Linked DNA regions of Homo sapiens: regions 2, 3 and 4 are each reported to be linked to region 1. Evidence: microRNA targets listed by miRTarBase, many of them from high-throughput screens and not tested one by one. Region 1 holds a microRNA gene; each other region holds the end of a gene's coding sequence. Distances are from middle to middle.
Evidence for each region. Region 1 holds the annotated microRNA hsa-miR-520f-5p (CCUCUAAAGGGAAGCGCUUUCU, at 4,637-4,658, shown strand). A microRNA usually pairs through its seed, bases 2 to 8, with sites in the 3' UTR of a target mRNA and lowers its output. Matches are read on the target gene's strand: a 7mer-m8 pairs with bases 2 to 8, a 7mer-A1 pairs with bases 2 to 7 and ends in A, and an 8mer does both.

Region 2: the mRNA of ZC3H13 is a reported target of hsa-miR-520f-5p. Seed matches in the 3' UTR shown: 8mer at 5,880-5,887 and 7mer-m8 at 5,071-5,077.
Region 3: the mRNA of UHMK1 is a reported target of hsa-miR-520f-5p. Seed matches in the 3' UTR shown: 7mer-m8 at 1,079-1,085, 7mer-A1 at 1,550-1,556 and 7mer-m8 at 4,059-4,065.
Region 4: miRTarBase lists EFNA2 as a target of hsa-miR-520f-5p. Seed matches in the 3' UTR shown: 7mer-m8 at 5,377-5,383.

Annotation. Positions count from the first base shown.
Region 1 is chr19:53,677,537-53,684,658 of GRCh38, forward strand. MIR520F (microRNA 520f) reads left to right here and starts at 4,623; the gene lies at 4,623-4,709. It overlaps MIR515-1 (microRNA 515-1), which reads left to right and starts at 1,467; the gene lies at 1,467-1,549. It overlaps MIR519E (microRNA 519e), which reads left to right and starts at 2,404; the gene lies at 2,404-2,487. The region is part of intron 2 of LOC107985342 (a long non-coding RNA gene); the gene reads left to right. RefSeq lists an enhancer at 159-659.
Region 2 is chr13:45,951,097-45,958,218 of GRCh38, forward strand. It overlaps ZC3H13 (zinc finger CCCH-type containing 13), which reads right to left. Exons shown (of 19, transcript NM_001330564.2): 19 at 3,369-6,201. The coding sequence ends at 6,031. Among named protein-coding and RNA genes, the nearest start is that of ZC3H13, 98 kb to the right of the region's middle.
Region 3 is chr1:162,521,683-162,528,804 of GRCh38, forward strand. It overlaps UHMK1 (U2AF homology motif kinase 1), which reads left to right. Exons shown (of 8, transcript NM_175866.5): 8 at 722-7,122. The coding sequence ends at 868. Among named protein-coding and RNA genes, the nearest start is that of UHMK1, 27 kb to the left of the region's middle.
Region 4 is chr19:1,299,251-1,306,372 of GRCh38, reverse strand. EFNA2 (ephrin A2) reads right to left here. Exons shown (of 4, transcript NM_001405.4): 4 at 4,942-6,549. The coding sequence ends at 6,428. Among named protein-coding and RNA genes, the nearest start is that of EFNA2, 17 kb to the right of the region's middle.

The DNA of each region.
Region 1 (7,122 bases):
GTAGCTGGGACTTCAGGTGAATATTAACCCATGCATAGGCAAGGAGAGAGGAAGGCTCTGACAGTCTGTGATCTCCCCTCACTGCAACCTCCACCCTCTGGACTGGGAACGTCAGGGCACTGCACCGATGCAGGCAGGATGAGCCGAGGGGAAAGGAGAGCCAGGCATCACTGGCTGGGGACATTTTGGGTTTGATCTGGATGGAGCAGGTGTCTCCTGGAGAGAGAGCCCCTGGGATTTTCACTCTGCTCCCTGGCTGTCTTAGTCATGGAATCTGACAACAGAGACTCCTGCCCAGGGCCACTTCATTTGGTTTCTGGACCCCAGTGGTCCTTCCTGCCTGGACTTAGGATCTTTTGGGGAAGTTTGGGATCTGGCAGGGCATCTGCATAATCCATAGAAATCCCTGAGAGTCACTTCCCTTGGCTGACATCTCCATGTTCCTACCCATTACCTTCCAAAGGAGACCCTTAACTGAATTACCAAAGGGGGCTTCCCAGAGCAGGGAAACCCGGTTAACTTTCTATTTCAGGTCAACAGTATACTTGAGATGTACTTGAACTAGAAATGATTGGTTGTTTAGGTGTGGGCATTTGTTTTTCCTAACTTAGTCTCCAAGAAAAAAAATTATTGAGGTTTTACAGCCTAGCCTGTGGTCTATCCTGAAGAATGTTCGTGTGTGTGACAATGTACATTCTTTTTTTCCCCCCAGCTCTGTCAAATCTTACTGAGGAGCTTTTACGGCCTAGCCTGTGGTCTGTCCTGGAGGGTATTTGTGTGTACAACAATGTATATTCTTAAACATTATCTTAGATTCCATTTTGGATGTTCCCATCAGGACTGTGTGTTTCTGTGCTGGAACTCAAGTGAACACTGGCTCAACATCCTTAGAAATCCAGCCCAATTCTCTTGGTTAAAGATAAGGTATGTGTGGTAGGCATTGCTTTTTCTCTTTGGGGACAAAACTCAGGAGGATTGCCCCTTGATGAACAAGGCTAACCTGCTAAGCCTTTGAAGCAAGGAACTGGAGATGGTCCTTTCAGGGGTTTATGTTCTGGATTCCATAAAACATGCAAACAGGGGCAATGAATGCACCTTTTTTATTTTTATTTTTATTTTTTTTTGAGATGGAGTCTTACTCTTGCCAGTCTGGAGTGCAGTGGCACGATCTCGGCTCACTGCAACTTCTGCCTCCTGGTTCAAGTAATTCCCCTGCCTCAGCCTCCCGAGTAGCTGGGACTACAGGTACATGCCACCACAGGCGGCAAATGGTTGTATTTTTAGTAGAGACGGAGTTTCACCATGTTGGCCAGGATGGTCGTGGTCTCTTGACCAGCCTCCCAAAGTGTTGGGATTCCAGGCGTGAGCCACCGCGCCTGGCCAATGAATGCATCTTTATTTTTGTGTTCATTTTAATCTGGTAAGGTAAATTCCAACAAAAAACCCAGAGTTTTGGAGTGAGAAGATCTCATGCAGTCATTCTCCAAAAGAAAGCACTTTCTGTTGTCTGAAAGCAGAGTGCCTTCTTTTGGAGCGTTACTGTTTGAGAAAAACCACGTTGAAGTTGATGCTGATCTTGGTAACACATTTGCAGAGCGTGCTTATCATCAGACTTGCATGATGTTGGGGTTCTGTTTTTGTTTAGTTTTTTTGCAACACAGGGTCTCTTGCCCAGGCTGGAGTGCGGTGACACTTCCAACCTAGACCTCTTGGGCTCAGTTGGTCCCTGCCCCCACCCCCTCCCCCTTTTTTTTCTCTTGAGACAGTCTCTCTCTGTGGCCCAGGCTGGAGTGCAGTGGTATGTTCTCTGCTCACTGCAACCTCTGCCTCCCGAGTAGCTGGTATTACAGGCACATGCCACCACGCCTGGCTAATTTTTGTATTTTTAGCAGAGACGGAGTTTCATCATGATGGCCAGATTAGTCTTGAACTCCTGACCTTAGGTGATCCACCTGCCTCGGCCTCGCAAAGTGCTGGGATTACAGGCATGAGCCACTGTGCCTGGCCCACAACGTATATTCTTAAATATCATCTTAGATTCCATTTTGGTTGCTCCCATCGGGACTGTGTGTCCCTGTGCTGGAACTCAAGTGAACACATGGCTCAAAATCCATTGCTGTTCTCTAGAAATCCAGCCCAATTCTCTTGGTTAAATATAAGGTATGTGTGGTAGGCTTTGCTTTTTCTCTTTGGAGACAATACTCAGGAGGGTTGCCCCTTCGTGAACAAGGCTAACCTGCTGAGCCTTTGAAGCAAGGAACTGGAGATGGTCCTTTTAGGGGTTTATGTTCTGGATTCCAGAAAACATGCAAACAGGGACAATGAATGCATCTTTATTTTTGTGTCCATTTTAACCTGGTAAGGAAAATTCCAACAAAAACCCAGAGTTTTGGAGCGAGAAGATCTCATGCAGTCATTCTCCAAAAGGGAGCACTTTCTGTTTGAAAGAAAACAAAGTGCCTCCTTTTAGAGTGTTACTGTTTGAGAAAAACCACGTTGAAGTTGATGCTGATCTTGGTAACGCATTTGCAGAGCGTGCTTATCATCAGACTTGCATGATGTTGGGGTTCTGTTTTTGTTTAGTTTTTTTGCAACACAGGGTTTCTGTTGCCCGGGCAGGAGTGCGGTGGCGCTTCCAACCTAGACCTCTTAGGCTAGTTGGTCCCCCCTACTTTTTTTGTTGTTTTTGTTCTTGAGACAGAGTCTCACTATGTGGGCCAGGCGGGCAGGCAGTGACACATTCTCTGCTCACTGCAACCTCGGCCTCCCAAGTAGCTGGTATTATAGGCACGTGCCACCACGCCTGGCTAATTTTTGTATTTTTAGCAGAGATGGAGTTTCACCACATTGGCCAGGTTAGTCTTGAACTCCTGACCTCAGGTGATCTGCCCGCCTCTGCTTTCCAAAGTGGTGGGATTACAGGCATGAGCCACCCTGCTCGGACTGCAGGGTGTTTTTTTTTTTTTTTTTAATTATTATTTGTATTTTTTTGTGCTGCCAAAGCAAGCACTTGTGTGTAGGAATTTTGTTTGTTTGTTTGTTTGTTTGTTTGAGATGGAGTCTCATTCTTGTCGCCCAGGCTGGAGTGCAGTGGCATGATCTCGGCTCACTGCAACCTACGCCTTCCGGGTTCAAGCGATTCTCCTGCCTCAGCCTCCTGAGTAGCTGGGATTTCAGGTGCATGCCGCCACCCCGGCTAATTTTTGTCCTTTTGGTAGAATCGGGGTTTTGCCATGTTGGTCCGGCTGGTCTCAAACTCCTGACCTCAACTAATCCACCTGCCTCGGCCTCCCAAACTGCTGGGATTACAGGCATGAGCCACCGCACCCGGTGAGGAGTTATTTTTAATGTGAGCAAACAGTATATTCTTTTTTTTTTTTTTCATAGACAGGGTCTCAACAATATATGATGTATATTTAATCATATAGTCTTATCATGTATATAATGTAGTCATATGTACACCAAACCCTGTTCTACACACGGAGAATACTCTTGTATCACTTTGGGTATTTATTTACTTGTTTCTTTCTGTGTTTTTCTTGTTTGTTTGTTTGTTTTGTTTTGAGACAAGGTCTAGCTTTATCACCCAGGCTGGAGTGCAGTGGTGCCATGTCGACTTACTGCAACCTCCACCTGCCACCTCAGCCTCCTGAGTACTTGTCTACAGGTGCGCACCACCACACCCAGCTAACTTTTCTATTTTTTGTGCATAAGGTTTCACCATATTACCCATGCTGGTTGAGCTCGAACTCCTGAGCTCAAGTGATCCTCCTGCCTTGCCCTCTTTAAGTGCTGGGTTTATTGGTGTGAGCCACCACGCCCCACCCATACTTGTGTATTTCTGTATTTATTGAGGAGCTTATACAGCATACCCTGTGGTCTATCCTGCAGGATGTTTGTGTGTGAGACAGTGTATATTCTTGAACATAGTAGATTCCATTTTGGATGCTCCCATCGGGACTGTGTGTCCCTGTGCTGGAACTCGAGTGAACACTTGGCTCAAAATCCATTGCTGTTCTCTAGAAATCCAGCTCAATTCTCATGGTTAAATATAAGGTATATGTGGTAGGCATTGCTTTTTCTCTTTGGGGACAGAACTCAGGAGGATTGCCCCTTGATGAACAAGGCTAACCTGCTGATTCTTTGAAGCAAAGGACTGGAGATGGTCCTTTTAGGGGTTTATGTTCTGGATTCCAGAAAACATGCAAACAGGGCCAATAAATGCATCTTTTTGTTTTGTTTTGTTTTGTTTTTGAGATGGAGTCTCGTTCTGTCACCCAGGCTGGAGTGCAGTGGCACAATCTTGGCTCACTGCAAGCTCAGCCTCCTGGGTTCACGCCATTCTCCTGCCTCAGCTTTCCAAGTAGCTGGGGCTACAGGTGCCCACCACCACGCTAGGCTAATTTTTTGTATTTTTAGTAGAGGCGGGGTTTCACCCTGTTAGCCAGGATGGTCTTGATCTCCTGACCTCGTGATCTGCCCGCCTCGGCCTCCCAAAGTGCTGGGATTACAGGCATGAGCCACTGCGCCCGGCCCCAATAAATGCATCTTTATTTTTGTGTCCATTTAAACCTGGTCAAGGAAGATTCCCACAAAAAATCCACGGTGCTGGAGCAAGAGGATCTCAGGCTGTGACCCTCTAAAGGGAAGCGCTTTCTGTGGTCAGAAAGAAAAGCAAGTGCTTCCTTTTAGAGGGTTACCGTTTGGGAAAAGCAATGTTGAAGTTGATGCTGATCTTGGTAAAATATTTGCAGAGCGTGCTTATCATCAGACTTGGATGATGGTGGGGTTTTGCTTTTGTTTTGTTGTATTCCAAGACAAGGTCCCTGTTGCCCAGGCTGGAGTGCGGTGACACTTCAACCTACATTTCTTGGGCTCCGGTCGTTTTTGTTTGTTTGTTTGTTTGTTTGACAGGGAGTCTCACTGTGTGTCTCAGCAATGCAGTGGCACTATCTTGGCTCACTGAAACCTCAGCCTCCTGAGTAGCTGGGATCACAGGTGCGTGCAACCACGCCCATCTAATTTTTGTATTTTTTGCATTTTCAGTAGAGACGGGGTTTCACCGTGTTAGCCAGGATGGTCTCGATCTTCTAACCTCGTGATCCGCCCGCCTCGGCCTCCCAAAGTGCTGGGATTATAGGCGTGAGCCACCGCGCCCGGCCGAGAAACTAATCTTTTGAGATGAACTCTGAGATGTGGATTTTAGCTTGTTTGCAGCCACCACCACTCTAGTTTTGGAAGATTTTCATCACCCCGAAGAGGCTTATACTCATTTGCAGTCAGTACCCACCCACCTCTTCCACCCAGACCGTGGCAACGACTCCCCATCTCTCTAGCTCTGGATCTGCCTCTTGTAGGCCGGTCACGTAGACCAATCTTGTATGGGTGTCCAGTTGAGGATAATGGGTTGGTCCTGGTTGTCTGCAATGTGAATCTTACCACTGAAGGGTGGTCCCTGGAGGGAAGCAGGAGGCTGGGAGAACTGGGCGGAACATCCTTTGGGAATGGAGTGGGGCGGGCAGACCCTGATGTCTGGGAAGCTCACAAGGGTGGAAGACCCCATCTTCCTCCCTGAGAACTGCAAGGTGACCCTCCTGGGGCACTGGAAGGAGTGAAGGCCTCTGGGCTGGGAACGTCAGGGCACTGCACCGATGCAGGCAGGATGAGCCGAGGGGAAAGGAGAAGCAGGCATCATTCTCTGGGGACATTTTGGGTTTGATCTGGATGGAGCAGGTGTCTTCTGGGAGAGAGAGCCCCTGGGATTTTCACTCTGCTCCCTGGCTGTCTTAGTCATGGAATCTGACAACAGAGACTCCTGCCCAGGGCCACTTCATTTGGTTTCTGGAGCCCAGTGGTCCTTCCTGCCTGGACTTGGGATCTTTTGGGGAAGTTTGGGATCTGGCTGGGCGTCTGCATAATCCATAGAAATCCCTGAGAGTCACTTCCCTTGGCTGACATCTCCATGTTCCTTACCCATTACCTTCCAAAGGAGACCCTTATCTGAATTACCAAAGGGGGCTTCCCAGAGCAGGGAAACCTGGTTAAATTTGTATTTCAGATTAACAGTATACTTGAGATGTACTTGAAGTAGAAATGATTGGCTGTGGGTGTCGGCATTTGTTTTTTCTAATTTTAAATATGGGACCATCATGAATTTGGGTGTCACTTTGTGCAGGGGACGTGGGAATCGCTGTCATTTTTTTTTTTTTTTAACATATGCTGCCAGAGAAGGCACTTAGGTGGAGAAATTACTCTTCGTGTGAGCATTCAGTATATAGAACTTCCTTTTCTGGGGGCAGTGTCTTATATATGATACACATTTTATCATATCATCTTCTATAGATAATATAATGATTAACACAAAACACTCTTCTACACACACAGAATACTCTTGTATCACTTTGGGTTTTTTTTCCTTCGTGTGTGTGTGTGTGTGTGTGTGTGTGTGTGTGTGTGTGTGTTATGAGACAAGGTCTGGCTCTGTCACCCAGGCTGCAGTGCAGTGTTGCAGTCTTGGCCCATGCCCCACCGCAGCCTCTGGAATAGCTGTCTGCAGGCCAGGCACGGTAGCTCAGGCATGTCGTCTCAGCACTCTTGGAGACCAAAGCAGGCTAATCACCTGGAGTCAGGAGTTTGAGACCAGCCTGGCCAAGATGGTGAAACCTCATTTCTACTAAAAGTACAAAAATTAGCCGGGCGCGGTGGCTCACGCCTGTAATCCCAGCTCTTAGGGAGGCAGAGGCAGGAGGATAGCTTGAGCCCAGGAGTTTGAGACCTGCCTGGGCAATACAGTGAGACCCTGTTCTCCACAAAAAGAAAAGAAAAAAAAGAAAAAAAAATTTTAAAAATGCAAAATTAGGTGGGCATCGTGGCACGTGCCTGTAATCCCAGGTACCCCAGAGGCTGAGACAGGAGAATTGCTGGAAACCTGGAGGCAGAGCTTGCAGTGAGCTGAGATCACGGCCCTGCACTACAGCCTGGGCAACAAAGTGAGACTTGTTTCAAAAAAAAAAAAAAAATTTATTGAGGAGCTTTTATGGCCTAGCCTGTGTTCTATCCTGGAGAATGTGTGTACAACAGTGTATATTCTTAAACATCATCTTAGATTCCATTTTGGATGCT
Region 2 (7,122 bases), not on the chromosome of region 1:
ATTGCTTGAGGTCAGGAGTTTGAGACCAGCCTGGGCAACATAGGGAGACCTTGTTGGCACAAAAGAGTTAAAATAAAAAATTAGCTGGGTGTGGTGGCATGTGCCTGTGTTCCCAGCTACCTGGAAAGCTGAAGTGGGAAGACTCCTGAACCTGGGAGGTGGAGGTTGTAGTGAATCATGATTATGCCACTGCACTCCAGCCTGGGCAACAGAGACATCATCTCAAGAAAAAAAAAAATTCAACATGAATATTAAAATCTAGTGATTCAACTGCCTCCATGAAGAAAGTCCACAAAACAAGAAACAAGAAGGAAGAGATGATGAAATCACAGAAAGAAAAAATATGAGCTTAGGAAAGGAGTTATACAAAAAGAAAAATACACACTGTGGGAAACCAAATGAGTACAGGTAATAAAATGGAGAAATGCAATGAAATGGAAGTAAAGAAAAAAGTTAAACTGTTCTGGTAATGGGAGATGAGATAATTCAGAACAACTTCACACTAAGAACTGGAGAAGCTGGACAAAACATTTATTTTAAAAATTCTGCTTGAACACTGAAAAGCCAGTAAGATGATGAAAAAATCTTGGGCCAAAATTCAGGAGATAGATATGCAGGGGTGAACCTGACATTTGGGGTCAATTTTGCCCAGATGCCATTTAAAAATCTGGAAAACAGACTGAGGAACCAATCATAAGTTATGATGTCCTCTTGGGGAAGGCAGAAAACACTGGCACATGGGATCCACCAAGAATGGAGGCTCTTATGAACCCTTGTACTTTGGATCTAGACCTCAAAGTCTGAACCCTGGGAATGACAGTGAGCTACAAGTGCCCATGCATATACTGCAGCCAAGATGCGAGTCATCTGGGGATTCAGATCATCTTAGTTCCTAAAACAGGATTAAGATGTTTTCAGTCTGACAGTGACCCCAGAAGCAAAAAAAACTTGTGTCTGGACAACAGCATCTTAGACCTCCACTTTTTTTCTACAAACAACTTTGCAAACACGATTTCGGCATATAGTGAAAGATAACCAGACCTAAGAGTAGGGAAGAAAACATGAAAAAGAGCCAACAGAAACAACACACAATAGAAACAGATTCTGAATTGGCATTAAATATTGGAATTGTCACACATACACACGGAAGTTAATTAACAAGTCTAAAACATGGATATTTTGAGCAATAATGAGTTATAACCCATGAAATAAAATAGGAATCTATGAGTTTATACTGACATAAATAAGTGAATAAAGGAGAAATAAATGGATAAGGGAATTCCAGTAAGTGTAGAAAAAACAGTGGAATTAGAAAACCGGCATTTGGCAAGCATTACAGCAATACATATGAAATACATAGGGATAACTGATTAACATTAACATCGTTTTCTCTTGATGTTTACATGGTGTCTTTTTTCTATCCTTTTACTTTTAAAGCTCCCTATGTTTTAGGTCAGTCTCATAAGCAACATGTAGTTGTTTTTCTGTGGTTTGATAATCTTTGTCTTTTAATTGGATACTGAATGTTTTCATTTAACATAATTTGTGAATACATTTGGGCTTACATCCGTGTGTTTTCTATTTGTCTCACCTGTTCTAAATTGCTTTTTCTCTTCTGCTTGCCTGTTTTGACGTGATTGAATGCCTTTTATCCTTTTATTATTACTTATTACTTTTGCTTTCAAATGAAATTCCAACTTCATACATAGCCTACATATTCTAAACTTCAATTATCTGAGCACCAGTAATTTCTGTCCTATTTCCACACTGACTACTTAATTTGTTTAGTTATTAACATTTATTCCAAAAAGAAATGTTATATTGCCACAGTAAACTAAAACAATCAGTACCACTTGCCATGCAAAGTAACTAGAACATACAGAACTTGTTTTATACTCTACTGTGGGAAACACTTCCATATTCCACAAGGCTTTGCCAAGATATATACCTACACCACCCCAAATGGTAGCCATTAGCCACATACAGCTATTTAAAAGTAATGACAAAATTTTAAAACTCAGTTTCTCAGTCACACTGGCTATATTTCAAGTGTTTAATACAAGCCACATGAAGCTTGTATTGGCCATTTTTTGGGGGGCAGCATTTACAGAACACTTCCATCATTGTAGAATATTCTGTTGAACAGCACTGTTCTAGACCTTCTCTCTAGCAACCCCCATCCCCTCCACCCAGTGGTGAGCCATAGTAGTATTTTCGTCTTGGAATTCACCAAAGCTCTTTTCCTAGGCCTTTGCATATCCCCATCCCTCTGCCTGAAATACTCCTTCCCCTTTTGCTCTTTGCTAGCTTCTTTTCATTTTTTAGGACTCATCTCATACGTAAGACCTTCTTGATAATCTGAAGTAGTACCCAACTCCCAATCGCTACACTTATTTCTCATCTCAGTCATTTGGTTTTTTCTTTAATTGCAATCACTGCAATTTACATTTTATTCATGTCTATTTACTTCCCATCTTTACCTAAGCTACTCCAATTGTACTTCTATCACAGTATAACCAGGTGGTGGCTATCGGCTGTAATCCGAACACTTTGGGAGACTGAGATGGAAGGACTGCCTGAAGCTGGGAGTTTGAGATCATCTGGGCAACATAGTAAGATCCCCCCCCCACCTTTTTTTTTTTTTTTTAAACTTGAGACAGGGTATCATACTGTTGCCTAGGCTAGAATGGAGTGGCGCCATCACAGCTCGCTGCAGCCTCAACCTCTTGGGCTCAAGCAATCCTCCTGCCTCAGCCTCCCTGAGTAGCTAAGACTACAGGCACGTGCCACCACACTTGGCTAATTTTTGTATTTTTTGCAGAGATGGTGTCCCACTTTGTTGCCCAGGCTGGTTTTGAACTCTTGGGCTCAAGCAATCCTCCTGCCTTGGCCTACCAAAGTGTTTTTTTAATTTTTCTTTTTAAAATTAGCCAGTTATGATGATGCACACCTGTAGTCCCAGCTACTTGGGAGGCTGAGGTGGGAGGATCCCTTGAGCCCTAGAGTTGGAGGCTGCAGTGAGCTATGATCCTGCCACTGCACTCCAGCCTGGGGGTCAGAGAAAGACCCTGCCTCTGAAAAAAAAAAGGGCTGGGCATGGTGGCTCATGCCTGTAATCCCAGCACTTTGGGAGGCCAAGGCGGGAGGATGGCTTTGAAGCCAGGAGTTTGAGACCAGCCCAGGCAAGACCCCATCTCTATAAAAATAATTTAAAAAAGAAAAAAAAATATGAAAGAAACAGCTCAATAAAGTTGAGAAAGTATGTTTACAGATGCATGTAGAAAGTTATTTAATAAAAATATTTCACCATTTAAACTTGGATTCCCCAGAGTGTCATTCAAAATACTGAAATGGAAAGATCAACAAAATTAATGAATAAAGAAAGTTTATTGGAGATTATTAAAGAAAAATGATAAAATAAGGCAAGTCCTAGATCAGATTTAAATACAATATTTAGAAAGATGGCTATATAATTTTAGCTAGGAAAATCAGTAAAAGGGAATATCCTTAAAAGTGGGAGGGGTTCATATAACCTTTTAAAATAGCAAGTTGAGGTGTAAAAGCATCACCAACAATAGTATGTACCTTAATCTTTACACAATTGGACAGTGAGGAGCAAAGTGGGAGATTCTACCAATGCCACTTACAGAACAGATTTTCAAGTTAATAAGTCATAAAATCCTAATGTAGTCATAGGCTAGGATGGTGACGACAATCTGCAATTACTGGTCAGAGTGAAGCGAAGTGACAGGTCAGATTTTTCAGCATATCAAGTTACTACTTAGGTATGCTTACAAAACTTTGTTAAATAAAGTTGGGTATTGTTAGTATACCCTTTACTAAATGGTGAGGATAGCTGCCAAAATAATCAAAAGGCTAATTATGTGTTAACTCTCATTTATTTTGGATTGCAGACATACTCTTGCCCTTTATCTATCTACACAATTCCTTATTACCAGCAGCTGGAATCCAGTTGTGCAATTATGGCAACTGGACAGACCTGAGCCGTCAGTTATGAGATAGATGACCTTTTAATTGTACTAGCAAACAATTTATAGACTGGAAGATTGTTTTTCGGGAATACCAGTTTAACTGAGACTTTAATTATGGTCCAAGAGCTTTTATGAGAAATTCAATCAAAAATTTTGCTTTAGAAAAATTTTATAGGTATATGTTACTAATACTGAGAATGGTTGAATTAAAAGAAATTGAGACTGAACAGTACATTTCCACTGGAAACATAAAGCTCTGAATGCTGTGACTGAGTGAACAAAGGAATAGTTCTAAATTTTCTTTTGCAACATACATAACAAAAAGATTTCAAACTGAAAGACAACAGGTTTAACTGAATGACAGATTTAACTACATAGTTTTCATTCTATAAATAAATAACTTGTGAAATATCCCTGAAGTCAGTGGACAAATGGGGAAACCATTATTTTTGTCATATTCTACAATTCTGAGAACTAGGATTAGAAATTCTAGGACTTTAAATCTTTGTGCTACAGAGAACAATATTATCCACTAAAATCAGGAAGTGGCTTCCTGAAGGGTATTCATTCTCTGAGGTCATACATTTTTTTTTTCTTTATTCAAAACACTTAGTAAAGGAAAAGGACACAAGGAAATTCTGATTAAAGTCTTCTCCTGCTCTGTTTGCAATTATACATGCTTTCAAAGTCATTTGAAAGTAAGACCATTTCCTTTGGCAGGTATCTTGTATAAAGTAACTTTACAACATATGTTTCTTGAACAGAAACTTTACACCACTGTCATTATGTTACCTATAGAGACAAAACTACTAACACAAGTAATATGGGCTTACAATTATAACACAAACCTGTGAGAGGGCATGATAAAATTAAATTTTGATTGCCTTCTTTTATTATTATCACTACTACTGTCTGCTCACAAATTCTGTGGCCAGAGTCCATTTCAAATCCTTCTAAGAGTCCACTTCATGAGTTAAACATATACATATAGAACAAAGCAGGTATACTGTAATTTTTAAAAGTAAATCTGTTTTACATAGTACAGCTGGAGGCAGTTTAATATAATCAAAAGTTATAGCTCTAAAAAATATGATAGTAGAATATTAAACCTCAGGTTACGTTAGGTTTGTTAACTCTTGATTTGCTTTGAGTAATTTTTTTCTTCAAAAGCCACATTCCAAGAAGATGCCTTAAGTATCAATGAGCTATATTTGAAGTACATCAACTCTGTTTAAAGCTGTCCAACAATAAGGACACAAGCAGTAAAATATCTGAAGCATGAAACATGTAATGTTGATGACTAATGTTCTAGATCATCAGGAATAAGATTAACGAAGAGCAAAGTAAATCTAAAACAAGGAAAGGGAAGATACATTTATTAAAAATAAAAATAGTACACAATCTCTGATAACAAAAAAAGCATTTAGGGTCAAAAGACATCCAACATACATTGTAACAATGCACACATATTAATTAAAAAAAAGACCCATGAAATAATTTTTAAAAAACTTTCAAAAGGAAAAAACTATTTTGGCTTCCTTCTGCTGAAATTCGCCTATAAACATACCACGCCAGCTAGACCAGCATTCCCTTTCACGTGGTCTGTACAACATAGTACTGCACAATGTGAGCAATTACTTTGATGAACACATTGTTTTTGAATAAAATTGTTGGTTCTGTATGGATGATCCAGACATAAATCCATGGTTCCATTTCACAAAAATATTCATAGGCTGGAAGAGCAGTGACAACCATTTTCCAAAATCTTCAGTTTTAACAAAAGGCGCAGAATAAACTACTAAATCTAGATGTTTTCACATTATTTTGCATGAGTGTCAAATACTATGTAAAAATTAACGTAAAATCTTAAGTTGGCCAAAACTAGTGTCTCTAAAGATCAAAATTCTTCACTCTTTTAGCATGGCTGATAAATCTTTTCTGCCTTTGTCACTAATGCTTGTCAAACCAAAGAACTTTGCAAAAGAATATGCACTGCTGAAGGAAGACAGTACCAAAAATACCATATTGAACTTCGGTCTTAAGACACACACAGTTCCTGTTGGATACTGGACTGTGAAAGTTTATTATCTTCAGTCTTTTCATGTCCTGGAGCATGGCAAGTAGTCTTCCGCTTAAATAACCGAAGACTCAATCGAAGTAATTCATTGTCTACCATTGGAGCACTCGTGTAAGCTTGTTTTATGGTGCCCTATTTGAAGAAAACAAAAACAAACTTTAAAAAAGATGTACATTATTAGTAGGAAAGATGGGCAGGTTAACCTCTACCCAAAATATCAAAGTTATAAGAGTATTTCATTTTGGATATTAAATTAGCTTTATTGGATTTCAAAGCAAAATTAGAAAATGTGTTTGGGCTCAATGAATCTTTGAAAAGAAACTTTTAGAGGGCACCTAGTTTAACCTCTTGCTTAAAGTAGGAATCCTCTCAACAATTTCTGACAGGTAATCAACCGGTTTTTACTTTATCATTTCCAATGACAAAACAAACAAAAAACACACTGCACGTTCTGTTGTTGAATGGCACTATTTCTTCCATGTGATGGAATAAAAGCTCTTCTATGGTGCTACACTGTAATTCAATCTTACCTTTACTTGACAATCCTTCAGTTCTATGAAGGTAAGTGCCATGAGTTCCTTCCTCACATAGTTTTTCCTTCTGTAAGCCAAACATTCTATTCTATACTCCTTACCAATCTTTCAATGTCCCATAAAAAGTGAGCTCGAAAACTGAATAAATCCTTTAGAAGACAGCTAATCATGCAGTATGCTGAAGAACTACTACCTCCCTTATACTAAAATATGTATCTATATTATTGTGACTTAAAGTTACATTAGCATTTTTTGGAAAGTTATTGTCATAGAGAAGGGACCAGGGAATGTTACAAAATACAAAACAAAGAAAAGTGCATACTGAAATCAGGGAGCAAAGGAGAATGACTGTAGTGATTCTGTCAAAAGTAATCTTGAACCAGACTTTTAAGTGAGGAAAACTTGATTATACAGTCAAGACATGTTTTAAAAATCTCCTGTTCCTCGTATTTGTTTCCATTTTAATCTTTGGAGATAAACTCATTCTTCTGTTTTTTAAAAATTGAATCCCCCCTACCCA
Region 3 (7,122 bases), not on the chromosome of region 1:
CAGTGGCGCAATCTCAGCTCCCTGCAACCTTCGCCTCCCGGGTTCAAGTGATTCTCCTGCCTCAGCCTCCTGGGTAGCTGGGATTACAGGTGTGTGCCACCTTGCCCAGCTAATTTTTGTATTTTTAGTAGAGACACGGTTTCACCGTGTTCGTCAGGCTGATCTCGAATTCCCGACCTCGTGATCCACCTGCCTTGGCCTCCCAAAGTGCTCAGATTACAGGAGTGAGCCCCTGCACCCAGCCAAATTGTACTTCCTAATAGGTGCAATTTCCAGCAGCTTTTGACCAATATTTTTTCCTTTTTCACTGCTAAAAGTACAGATTATCATCCAGGTACCATTGAAATGCAGTTGCTGTCTGAGCTATTCAGCCGTATCTTTGGCAGATGTCTAGTGTTATTCATCACTCCTGTAACGACCTTAGCAAAAGATTGTACATGATTCACACAACTTGTCCTTGAGAGATTTTTCAAAGTTGAGCTGAGTTGTGAGGAAGTATTCTAAACCTTGCTGTCCTGAAGTATAGTTCATAGACCAGCAGCATTGGCATCACCTGGAAGTTTGTTTAGAACAGAAACTCAGGCGACATCTCAGACCTAAGGAAGCAAAATCTGCATTTTAATAACATCTCCAGTTGATGTATATATATTAAAGGTGGTAAAGCACTGGTCTAAAACAATCTTGGTGGAAATGAAATGTTTTTTTCTCTGTCTTCTTTCAGGTCTTTGTTGAGTATGCAAATGCTGGTGATTCCAAAGCTGCGCAGAAATTACTGACTGGAAGGATGTTTGATGGGAAGTTTGTTGTGGCTACATTCTACCCGCTGAGTGCCTACAAGAGGGGATATCTGTATCAAACCTTGCTTTAATCAGTAACCTAAGGACTGTTTCCTTTTTCTCCTCTTCCATTTCTTGGGTTATTCCACATATGAATGCAGGACTACCCCCTTACCATTTTAAGAAGGTACTTTATACATTTATTTAATCCTACTAATGTGCAGCCATTGCCCAAGCAGTGACTGCGTTGCATACATTTGGCACTGAGTAGGACAAGACCTCTCAGCTATACATTGAGGGGTTTTAGAGCATCCATGTGGGCAACCCTTTTTTGTGCGGGAGAGCAGGTGTTGCTCTTCAGTATGTAGCCTAAAAAAATCTTAATTATTTCATGGATCATGAAGCAAGGATGAATAATATCATGTCTTGGTAAATACTAACAAATTTGTTAGGTTTGGTGACATCATTTACAGATTATTTCTTTATGTTGTCCAGTGGTTCTTCCTTATTGTTGATATCCATAAGCTGGCACTGGATGCTCTCAGTAATGTTAAGTAATTGTCAAGCAGCAGTTACCTACTGTGTTCTTAACACTGAGTTGTGAATTTTTTCTTAAAGCAGTACTGTAGTACTGAATATTCCTTTAAAGGAACTGCAGTGAGCCTATCTAAGTTTTTTTAAATTAAGGCTTTTAAAATAGAAAGCTGATGCTTGATCTTGCACAATTTTTATGTCTAGTATGTATGCTTGAGTGAATGTGCGAGTATGAATGATTAGAGAAAATTTGAGTCAGTGTACTTTATAGTGTGAATCCTGTGAGCTAATACAGTCTATACTTATTTCTTCCCTACCTGTTTCACATCCGTAAGATTTAAGATATACATTTTTTGAGAGGTAGTCTGTCTGATACAATGTAAATGACAAAACATAATTCCTGAGAGGCCCAGAACAAACTGGAGTCTAGCCTGGAGTTAAATTGAGACTTCTAAAATGATTGGAACAAAGACTAAGTTGTGCCAGATGTAAATCAACCCCTCTTTTAGTTTACTTTAGACTTTGTATTAGCTCATCTTTTTTGTAGTAAATCTATAGTTTTAAGGTTTCTCAAGATGTGGCTCTACCTACTATGATGAAAATTGAAGTGGGTCAAAAGAATTAGATGTACAGTGAAGGGAAAAGAAAAAAAATGGGCGAAGAGAGGGTGGAAAATAAAAGGATTCTTTTTTCTTCCTTTCTGTTTCTCGTATCCCTGCTCCCTTTTTCCTCCCCTTCCCTCATTCTTTGCCTCTATCCTTAGCTGAAGACAAACTAGAGGAGCAGCATCCCAGGTAGTTTGGCTTTTGACTGCAAGGTAGTTAAGAAAGGTGTAGATATAATGAGGTAGAAGTAGAAAGGAAGAAAAACTCAAAGAATTCTTAAAAGGATTCATAGCAACATAATGTGTCCCTGAGTAGAGGATGCTGCTATGCGTGAGTTCATGGACACAAGTTGATTACATGGTTTTTAGAATTATAATTATGGATTCTTCTTATTTCATGGTAGGTTGTCTTTAAAGATATAAAAATTAGGATGCCTTTATGAAGCACTGATTATACCAAAAAAAAAAGACAAGTTATATACAGGTTATTAATTTTTTTATTTATTTATTTTTTCCTAAGGAAAAAGTCTTCTATCTTTCCCTGCTGGAAGCCTCCTCATATTTCCTTATGTTTGCCATGCAGGTTGCTGAGAGTCCAGTTAGAATTTGCATTTTACAGAATGAAATACTTTACCCCATTCAAACAATTATTGTTTGACATTTTAGTTATTTATAATTGTCAAATTCAGGACTCTCCTTTAATGTTTATTATGAAACCAAATTTGGCATAAGGAGGCTGATTTATGAATTACCAAAGGGTCTTGTGGCATGTTCCCCAATACATGCCCTTAGAAGGAAGAACTATTATTTTTTATTTTGGCCCTTTCAGGAGTTGATTATAAATTGGTTTGTTTTCAAGTCAGAATTCAAGTGGGCAGAACCCGTATTGTGAAGACCTAAACTTTCCTAAATGTTCATATGGGTAGCAGATTTTGTGGTGATTAGAAACATCAGGTCCTTAAATACGATGAACATGGGATACAAAGGAATTCTTTATAAGGGCAAGTATCCTAAGTTAGCACATTTACTTTTCTCTCCCCTCCGCCCCCAAAAGAAAAATCCTTACAAATAAACTGCAGGTAGGCTTCTAAGCCTAGTCCTGCAGTATGCTGCTAACATCTTGATGCCAATCTTCACAGCATTCTTTGATTGTCATCTTATTGCTGATACATTCATACATATATTTAGTGCTTGACACTGTAGAATTTTGTTACAGAAGATGGTTACTAGATTTTAAGGGAGCTGAGGGAATAATTGATGAGCCTTGAATTAACCATGCATTTAATTAGATTTTTTGTTGTTGTTGTTGTTGTTTTGAGATGATGTCTTGCTCTGTTGCCCAGGCTGGAGTGCAGTGGCTCAATCTCGGCTCACTGCAACCTCTGCCTCGCAGGTTTGAGCGATTCTCCTGTCTCAGCCTCCCCAGTAGCTGGGTTTACAGGCGCTTGCCACCACACCTGGCTAGATGTTTTATATTAAAGCCAGAGAATTGAAAAAGAAATGCCTCCTGTGATTGAAATTATTTTATAGCTCTTAGCCCGTTCTACCAAAGATCACATTAGCAGATTACCCCTCCCTCCTGTGATATTATCTTTCTTAAACCTGAACCAAATATCAAAAGATACAAGTTTCATGATTAGGATGAAATATATACATAGGGATTTTGGTTTATTGAAGTTATTGAAAGACCTAGAAATTTTCTTTTTGAGAGAAAGGGTAAAGAGGTGAGGGTTCATGTCACTTAACCCCTACCCTTTTGGGCAAATTTTGTCTCAGGTAGTGTTTCATTCCCTAAATTAATACCTGTGCTTCCTTGCCTCTCACCTTCCCAGTTACTTCTTTGGGGTATTACTGTGGCACATTGTACACCCAGAAAAGGCACATACAGTGATTATTTTGTGGGAAATACTTGATTCTTTTGAAATATATTTGGAGGGGGTAGCTAGCTAGCCACTGTCAAAACTAATGCTGTATTTACAGGACAAAAACAAGTAGAGTTGGACACCTCAGTAAGAGACAGCATTAACTAAAAGTACTGACTGCCTTTTAAAGGAATTTTTAAAACTATTCTCTTGCAATAAGAGATCCGCATTTATTACCACTGGATGTCTTCCTTTTTTGTGGCCACCAATATAGCAGCTCTCTTTAGAGGGATTCCCTTTCTGCTATGCCTTGAGCCAAACTGGCTGCTTTTAGAACAAAAACCATAAGTATGGTTTTACTCGAACTTCTCTTTGTTTTTATTGAGAGAAATATTGCCTTCTTTTTGGTACTCCAGCTGCTAAAGAGTGCTGAGATATGTTAAATTATTTTTTAAAAGAAAATCTCCAAATACTTATTTAACTTGTCTTCTAGATTCATGTTGCTTATATTTTAACTATTGAGCAAGTTTATTATAAGGAATGCTGCCATATAGAGAAAGCTGAAGAGAAACCATGGGCAGAAGGCTTTTTTCTGTCTTATTACACTGGACCTTCACTCTGGTAAGGGCATCAGTTACTTTTCTGGAATAAAAGGCGGAGTTAGAGCACTTATCAGATGCTGTTTCATGGCTTGTTTTAGTTAATTTATCATGCAGATAACTAACATTTGGGTATCTTTTTGTTTTAGGTCTTATTTTCTGACTGTTAGGCCTATCTTACACATAAGTTCTACTATCAGTATACTTGGCAGCATGACTTTTTTTTTTTTTTACAGTTAATTTAATGAAAATCAGCACCATTGTAAATGATAGTAATTGTAACAACATAGTTACTGGGTGAAGGAGTAGGGGAGACACTCAGTAACCATCTATTTACCTAGACACTTATGCAGGGGTACATGCTAGGTGGCTTTATTCAGATTCGGGTACATTGGAATCACATCATGACTTTGAGTCTGATGGCTGTGTAGATAAAGATTTAAGCAAGTGCCTTGTGTTTGCTGGAAAATATTAAAACTCATTTGGGTGAAAGCTTCCCAGATGATGATAATTAATAGCACTTCTGCCTTTTTCCTGGAGTAACTTTTAGATTGAGTCACATATGATAGTATAAAAGTCCAAAATTTTCTGGGTTTACCTTTGTTTTATTTTTCATATATATATTCACTGTCTGCCTGGAAATAGCCTTGGTTTACCTTATTTTTTTGTATATGTAAAACTATTCATATTTGATTTTATTCCAATATTATATATGATGGAAAAGCCAGAATTGTCTGGCAGAATTTAATTCTTCCTTGGATCTCTAGTTCTGTTTTTAATATCAGGTTCCTTCATCAAATTTTACTACTGTAGCTCTGTGATATAATTTCATTTCTTGTCAATTATGGTCACATATAGACAAGTACTTGGTCACAATTAGCTCAAAAGAATCCCCATTTCTTAAGGTGCTCAGTCAATCACCTTTATTTTGAGATGGTAGTTTTTCAAGTTAGTATTACTTACTAGCTTTCTTGATGAATATAAAAATGTTGTCTCCATCATACAGAGCTGAGCCTCTTGTGGTATATTAAGATAAGTCCCATTCTTAATCACAGAAGAACATGGATATTTTAGTTTTTGGAGTACCCAGAATTGTAAAGATTTTGTTTCATTTTGTTTTAGGATAGCTTCTCTGCCTAATACTATAGGATATGTCATGTTCGTTATTGTAGCCACCTCCCTCAGATGTTTTTCACTATTTTTAAATTATATAATGACCAGTAGATTCACAGTAGCATGTACTTGACAAGTGCCATGGATATTTAAGAAGAAGGTAAATAATTTTAATATTTTTTGCTGTAATTTTATAGGAGCAGTGGACTGTAAGAGAAATATCTATAAATCAGAGAGTATTTAGGAAACTTTGTATTTTATAGGTGGTCATTAAAGTGATCTTCAGGATATAAGATAGTTTACACAAACTTTATTCTCCTGATAGGAAATTTTTATTCATTTTCCTACCACTCAGCACTTTTGTTCTGCCTTGTACTGCTTATGAGGATTAATGTTTTAAATTTGCTTTATTTGTGCTTTTCAGAGAGTTGTCATAATTGTGGCAGTTGTGTTTGTGGCACTGTAAATGCTGAAATTCATGGGAAACTTACCAAATGACTGCTTGAGTGTTATTTCCCATTAAATTGGGTAGCTGTCACAATAACCAGAAGAAATCTTGTGGCCCTTTTGAAGAAAGCCATGTATGTTTTGTTACCTAGGTTCATAGTATTTTAATTTAAAGGCAAAGAGAAGCATTCTACTTATTTGTCTTATAAACCATTAATCGTTTTTTGTGCAGAAGAGAGCTTATTTTGTTATACTGCTTTGTATAATGGAAATAAGTCACATTCTGGGGGAAAAAAACTGGAATTGTTTGTATTTTGTTTTTTTGGGGGGGGATCTTTATGTGAAAAATCAGAGCTACTTGTTACCATAAGCCCTTACTATCAACAAGATAATTATTTGTAATCACTTTTTTATCCCAGGTTGGAATTGCTTTCCCCTTCTAAGTTATCTTCCCTTAATAATATTTATGATACCAGGACAGTGAGGGTATAAGAGCAAATGTAGTGAGGTATTCAAAAATCCTGCATATATGGACTCAAAAGTTCTTTAGTTATTTGAATTATATATAGCTATATTATTTTATTAGCTTGGGTTGTCAGAAGATTGCCAATTTTAAGAGTAAAGAGGAGAGAGATAAGTAATAAAAATAGAGGAGGGGAAGAAAATGGCTCCCTTACTGGTCTTAGTAATCTTCTATATAGTTAATGAGCTAAAAAATGATACTTAAAGTTCCAGGTTTGGTACCGCTAGCATAGAAACATTGCCTTTCCTACACATTCCTCATCATTGTTTCCTCAGAAAATTATTTTAAGAGTTTGTGAAACCAGATTAAATATCTATATTCAGTTTGGCCTAATTTTTAAAAATAAATATTTATACTCCAGCTTTTGTGTATTTGGTGTACATCACCACTTATGCAAATCAAGGATCAGAAAACTGGAGGTTAGCCATCTCCATTATTTCCTTTTGCACATTGGGTACAGTGGGTGGCATTAGTATGCACTAGCTGCAAAGTCACAGCACCTTATGGAAATAAGTATGTTTATTATAATAAAAAAAAGTTAAGCTGCATCTCTGTAGATTATTTACTTTGCAGACTGTAAAGCTGCCCTATCTTTTCCAGCAGAATTTACTCTTCCATTCTTAATTCTTTTTTGAAATATCTTAAATAATTTAACATTCCTTTA
Region 4 (7,122 bases), 52 Mb from region 1:
AAAATAAAATAAAATAAATAGGCCGGGCGCGGTGGCTCATGCCTGTAATCCCAGTACTTTGGGAGGCGAGGCAGGCGGATCACCTGAGGTCGGGAGATCGAGACCATCCTGGCTAACACAGTGAAACCCCGTCTCTACTAAAAATACAAAAAATTAGCCGGGCGTGGTGGTGGGCGCCTGTAGTCCCAGCTACGCAGGAGACTGAGGCAGGAGAATGGTGTGAACCCGGGAGGCGGAGCTTGCAGTGAGCCGAGATCGCCCCACTGCACTCCAGCCTGGGCGGCAAGAGCGAAATTTCATCTCAAAAAAAAAAAAAAAAAAAAAAAGGTGGGGAGAGCCCAGAGGAGACTCGGGAAGGGTGTGCCAGCCAGGGCAAAGAGGGAACACCCGTGAGTGAGAGGTGCCCTGGGGAAGAAGCAGGTGTCAGGGCTGGGTTGGGGGACCAGAGGACAGAGTGCTGTGGCCTCTGGGGATGGTGGGGGGGGGGGCTTCTTTTTTTTTTCTTCTCCTTATTTTGTTTGTTTTTCTTATTTTTGTTTTGTTTTGTTTTCTTTTCTTTTCTGGAGCCTCTCATTACTGCCATGTGGCTGTTGGATCCCTGCAAGGCGATTCTTGTGTTTCAGCCTTCCCGAGTAGCTGGGACTACAGGCGCCTGCCATCACGGCCGGCTAATTTTTGTATTTTTAGTAGAGACAAGGTTTCACCATGTTGGCCAAGCTGGTCTCGAACTCCTGACCTCAAGTGAGCTACCTGCCTTGGCCTCCCAAAGTGCTGGGATTACTGGTGTGAGCTGTTCAGTATTTTTGTTTGTTTGTTTTTTGAGACAGGGTCTGGCTCTGTCACCCAGGCTGGAGTGCAGTGGCGTGATCATGGCTCAATGCAGTCTCAACCTCCTGGGCTCAAAGCATCTTTCCCCCTGGGCCTCCCGAGTAGCTGGAACCAGAGGTGCGTGCCAGCATGCCTGGCTAATTTTTTAATTTTTATTTTGCCGAGATGGTGGTGGTGGGGGTCTCACCCTGTTGCCCAGGCTGGTCTTGAACCCCTGGCCTCCAGCAATCAGCCTGCCTCAGTCTCCAAAATTGCTGGGATTACAGGCAGGAGCCACCATGCCCAGCCTCCGTTCAGTTTTGAGGGTGAAGAATGAGACACCATTTCTAAAAAGCAAAAAAAAAGTGAGCCCCCCTCCATCATGGCTGTTTGGACCAGAGGGTGGGGACCAAGGGGTTTTCTCCTCAAACACAGATGTAGACAGGCACACTGAGGCTCAGTGGTGAGGTCTGGGGGGATGCAGAGCCCTGCCCTGGGCCACCGGGGCTGTGGGGGGCGGCACGTTCCACCCCAAGCCGCACTCAAGAGTTTTGGGCGCCTCAGGCCTCCTTTCCCCTAGCAGCCTCCCGCTGCCCCCTGCCCGCGGCGGGCACCGAGGCGGCAGTAACTGGCCGGCAGGAGGGAGATGACTTCCCTCAGGATCCTCTGGGCGGAAAAGACTCTGCGCGGGACCAGCGTACCAATGGCCGTCCAGGGCTGGCAGGAGCCGGCATTGGGGTCTCACTGGGGCTGGGGTCGGGGGTAACCAGGTTCCCCAAGGAGCGCCCACACCCGGCGGGGACATCCCAGCACAGCCCCTGGAGTGAGTGGCCACTCGACACGTTGATGCAGCCACTGGGACAGGCACCAGGGTCTGGTCAGGGTCTGGCGCGGGAGTGGAGGTCAGTTCCTGAGAGGCTCGGGCCCAAAACACATGTGTCTGGCGACACAGGGGTACACAGGCATGGAGGTGCAAGCGCAGGGCTACGCGTGTGTGTGTGTACACGTGTCTGCGTGTGGCCAATGACACGGTCCCAGGAGATTCCCTGCTCTGGGCCCAGCACTGGTCCCGGCGATAACCAGGACAGACCCAGCCCTGCCCTTAGCGGCTGCAGCCTGGGGAGGAGTCAGGTAAGTAAACAGTCACAAAGGGCACCCACAGCCTCCTGGCCAGGAGCTCAGGTGACATCTGAGCTGAGTTGGAAGGGGCTGAGTGGGGGAGCCTGGCTGCAATCTGCAAGAGAGGTTCATCGGGGCAGTGGGGTGGGCTGGGGGGACAGTGCATGCAAAGGCCCAGAGGCAGGAGCTCAGCCATTCTTTGTGTATTTACCCAAAGTCACCTTTTAGGCTGGGCGCAGTGGCTCACGTCTGTATTCTCAGCACTTTCGGAGGCCAAGGCAGGTGGATTACTTCAGGTCAGGAATTTGAGACCAGCCTGGCCAATATGGTGAAACCCCATCTCTACTAAAAATACAAAAATTAGCTGGGCGAGTTGGCACACACCTGTAATCCCAGCTTCTCGGGAATCTGAGGCAGGAGAATTGCTTGAACGTGGGAGGCGGAGGCTGCAGTGAGCCGGGTTCGTGCCATTACACTCCAGCCTGGGTGACAGAGAGACTCAGTCTCAAAAAAACACAAAAACAAAAACGAAAAAGCAAAGTCACCTTTTGCATTGAAACTTTGTCTCAAAAATAATAAGATTGTCACAATATGCCCGTAGTGCCAGCTACTCAGAGGCTGCGGGAGGCAAATCGCTTGAGCCCAGGAGCCAGAGGTTTCAGTGAGCCGTGATCGCACCACTGCACTCCAGCCTGGGCGACAGAGTGAGACCCCGTCTCTAATAAATAATACAGAGTTAAATAATAAATCTAAAAAAAGCATCTTGGCTGGGCGTGGTGGCTCACTTCTGTAATCACAAGAAGTTTGGCTTGTGAGTTTTTGTTCTTTGTTTTTTAGAGACAATCTCTGAAAATGGTGAGATTACAGGGGTGAGCTACCATGCCTGGCACCCCCAGCACTCTGGGAGGCCAGGGCGGGAGGATCACTTGAGCCCAGGAGTTCGAGACCAGCCAGGAAATATAGCAAGACCCCATCTCTACAAAAAACAATAATAATAATAAATTGTATTTTTAACAATTGTCATAATAGCTAAAAGGTGGAAAGTACCCAAGTGCCCCTGGATAGATGATTGGATAAACACAGCGTGGTCCTTCCACGCACCGGAACGTGCTCAGCTGTGAAAAGGAGCGAGGCTCTGACCCAGGCCACAGCGCAGATGCACCTTGAGGACGTCACACTCAGTGAGAGATGCCAGACACGCAAGGCCACACAGTGTGTGACCCATTTCCATGAAACGTCCAGGACAGGCCCATCCACAGAGACAGGGAAGGAGGGGATACGTTGGTGCCAGGGGAGGGGATAAGGAGTGACGGCTGATGGGGACAAGGCTTCCTTTTGGGGTGATGGAATGTTCTGGAATCAGAGCTGATGGCTGCACAAGTCTCAATGCACTAAAATCCATGCAATTGTACTTAAAATGGAGGGAAGGACACTATTGTGTTTTTGTAACAGCATCACAGTCAGCACTGGGATGCCTCTCATGATCCCTGATCTCATTCTGTCCTTGGTCCTCTCTGTCCCAGTGGTCACGTTGCAGTTTGGGGTGGGGGTCTCGGCATGAATGGGCTGTGGGGGTCGCCTCCCTCTCTGAGCCTCGGGGTCCTCTGTGGAGTGGGGCATGGTGGAGCCTCCCCCGCGGTGCTCAGCACGGTGGCCGGCCGGCCCTCTGTGCCTCCGTGCGTCCACCCCGCGCTGGGCAGGGGCGGGGCGGGGCACACACAGGGGTCTTTGTGCCTGGGCTGCCTCATTAGGAGGCGGCCCCCGTCACCGGGCCCAGCGCAGCTGAATTAATTAGCTGGGAGCGTTCCCGCTCGGCTAATTGTGCCGGAGACGCCGTCGTCACGGCGGGTGGGATGCAGGCGACCATCGTCCAGCCGTAAAGACCTCAGTCCCCTGGGCCGGGTCACCTGCCGCGTCACCCCCAGCCTCTCTGTGCCTCAGTTTCTTCAATCGGGGCGTGCCTGGCATGAAGGCCCCTGGGACCCGAGAACTTACAGATGTGCCGTTTGCAAGGGGAAGAGGTTAGGAGATGACAGAGCCCCTGCCCTGGCCTGGAGCAGGTGGGGAAACTGAGTTACACAGAGGCAGAGCTTGCCAGTGGAGATTTCACAACATTTGATTGGATCCTGAGGCCCAGGAATTCCACCATGTTCAGGTGTGTGCCGGCCAGCGGTGTCCCCAGGGCCAGCCATGCACAGGCCCCGTCTCCTCCCTCCATCCTCCCAGCTGCCCCCTCCCAGCCCTAGGTGGGCTGTTGCTACTTCCCAGAGAGGGAAACTGAAGCCCATGGATGGCTATGAAGGATACGGGCCCTATAAAATGCTCATCCCAAGGTCTGACCCCAAAACGATGCACAGAACCAAAGAATCAGTCAGGTTCACAGCTCTGGGGATCCCCAGAGGTTCCTCGAAGCCGCACCCCTCTCCCCAGTAGATTCCAGACCCACCTCTAAATTATTATTATTATTATTACTATTACTATTATTTGAGGCAGGGTCTTGCTTTGTTGCCCAAGCTGGAGTGCAGTGGTGTGATCATAGCTCCCTGTAGCCTCCACCTGCCGGGCTCAAGCCATCCTCTCACCTCAGCCTCCCGAGTAGCTGGGTCTACAGTTGTGCACCACCACGCCGAGCTAATTTTTTTTTTCCTTTTTGAGACAGAGTTTCGCTCTGTTGCCGAGGCTGGAGGGCAAAGGCACGATCTCAGCTCACTGCAACCTCCAACTCCCGGGTTCAAGAGGTTCTCCTGCCTCAGCCTCCCGAGTAGCTGGGATGACAGGCGTGCACCACCTCACCTGGCTTTTTTTTTTTTTTTTTTCATATTTTTAGTAGAGATGGGGTTTCACCATGTTGGCCAGACTGGTTTCAAACTCCTGACCTCAAGCGATCTGCCCGCCTCGGCCTCCCAAAGTGCTGCAATCACAGGAGTAAACCACCACGCCCAGCATCCACCGCCAAATTAGGAATGCAAAAGTCTCCTTCAAGTAGGGCAAGGCCCCCACATACAGACACACGCGTTTGAGGTTTATGCTCATTTTATTATAAAAAAATACAGAATCCAAAGTTGATTGTGACGGGAAGAGGGAGGCCCGGTCGCCAGCTCCAGGCCTGGCAACGCGGCCCGCCCCGCCGACCCCCTACAAAAGCCCTCTGCCCACCCCCCACCACCGGGCGTGCCTCGAGCCGCCGGCCGGCGGCCGTACACAATATATATTTATATATAATATATATAAAACACAGAGTCAGGAAAGGCGGGTAGAAATATGAAATCCGTATAAATGTGTTGTTTCCTTCATTAAAGTGTCTTCGGGGAGGAGTTTCTTTTTTTTTTTTTGGTAGTGGTTCCCTCCCTTTTGTCCTTTTTTTCTTTTTCTTAGAAACATTATCAGGTCACAGAGTTGAGAGAGGGGCTCTGACAGACGACACGAGCTTATTGCCAAGTGCAGCTTCTACTCTAAAAGTCCACCCCACCCCCCCACCAAAATAAAAGACCCCCTATGAAGGGCTGAAAAAACATAGACGGTCCAGTCCGTCCTCAGGAATACGTGGAAAATAAAATCACAGTTTGCACTTGCTGGCTGTATTTACAGGAACAGAAGGTCTTCTCGGCCTCGGAGAGGGACCGTGTGAGGCGAGGGGGACGGGTAGGGGGCTGTTTGCATCGGCCAAAGCAGTTTCTAAGACACGGCGGGACTGTGATTCCGAAGGGCGCTGGGGCAAAACAGTGTCTGGGAGGAAATGACCAGGAGGACGGGGGTGGGCGATGGGGTATGAGGTCTCCCCAGCCACAATGAGGGGCGCCCACCACGTACCCCTTCCGGCTCAGACTCACCCAACCTGGAGCACCAGGGGGGTCCGCGGTGGGCTGCAGCTGTGTTCCCCCACGAGTGGGGTGCAGAGCAGAGGGGAGCGGCTGTGTTCCCCCACGAGTGGGGTGCAGAGCAGAGGGGAGCGGCTGTGTTCCCCCACGAGTGGGGTGCAGAGCAGAGGGGAGCGGCTGTGTTCCCCCACGAGTGGGGTGCAGAGCAGAGGGGAGCGGCTGTGTTCCCGACCCCATGTTCCGCGTTCCCCTCCCCCAGGCCAGGGCACAGGGACCCCGCCCCGCTACAACGGCAGGGAATAAATTAAATTAAAAACTCAAGTCTTTTTGATCCAACCACGAAAAATACACTAAAAAAAAAAAAAAAAAAAAAAAAAAAAAAAAAAATCGCCAAGAGGTTCCCGGGTTCTCCGACGCCCCAGAGGAGATGGCCTGGCCACGGTCCGCATCCACACCCCGGCCCCTCGGGCCTCCGGGGGGGGGCTCTCGGCCGTTTCCCCTCCCTGAGGGCTGGTCCTGGGGCGGGTGGATGGCCCCTGCCCGGCGGGGGCGGCACCAGGCGAGGGAGAAGCAGCGTCTCTATTTGGTCTCGGAGGCGGGGGCCGCAGCCGGGTCCGGAGGGCCGAGGTCAGGCGGTCCAGGCGGGGCCGTCCAGGCAGGGTCGGCGTCCTGCGGGGCTGGGACTAGGAACCCAGGAGGGTCCAGAGCACGGGGATGGTGCTGAGGAAGAGGCGGCAGCCGCCCGGGCTGCTACACGAGTTATTGCTGGTGAAGATGGGCTCAGGAGCCTCGTACAGGGTCTCGTCTGCGGGTGGCAGAGACAGCACGCTCAGCGGCCGCCCGAACCCCACTGGGCTCCCCACGTGCCGCCCGCCCTCAGGGTGCACATCTGCCCAACGGGCTCATCACCCCACCAGGCAGGCCCTCTGCTCCCTCTTGGTGCCATCCCCGATGCCCACTCTCCGGGCAAAGTCACTTGGCCTGAAGTGGGGGACCTGGCTGTTGAATTCAACCTTCACTCTTTTAATCTTTTTTTTTTTTTTTTTGCTTTATTTTTATTTATTTATTTATTTTTTGAGACGGAGTCTCACCGTCGCCAGGCTGGCGTGCAGTGGCGCAATCTGGGCTCACTGCAACCTCCGCCTCCCGGGTTCAGGCGATTCTCCAGCTTCAGCCTCCCAAATAGCTGGGACTACAGGCATGTGCCACCACGCCCGGCTAATTTTGTATTTTCAGCAGAGACGGGGTTTCACCATGTTGGCCAGGACGGTCTCCATCTCTTGACCTTGGGGTCCACCCACCTCAGCCTCCCAAAGTGCTGGGATTACAGGTGTGAGCCACCGTGCCCGGCCACTCTGTTTTTATTTTTATTTTTATT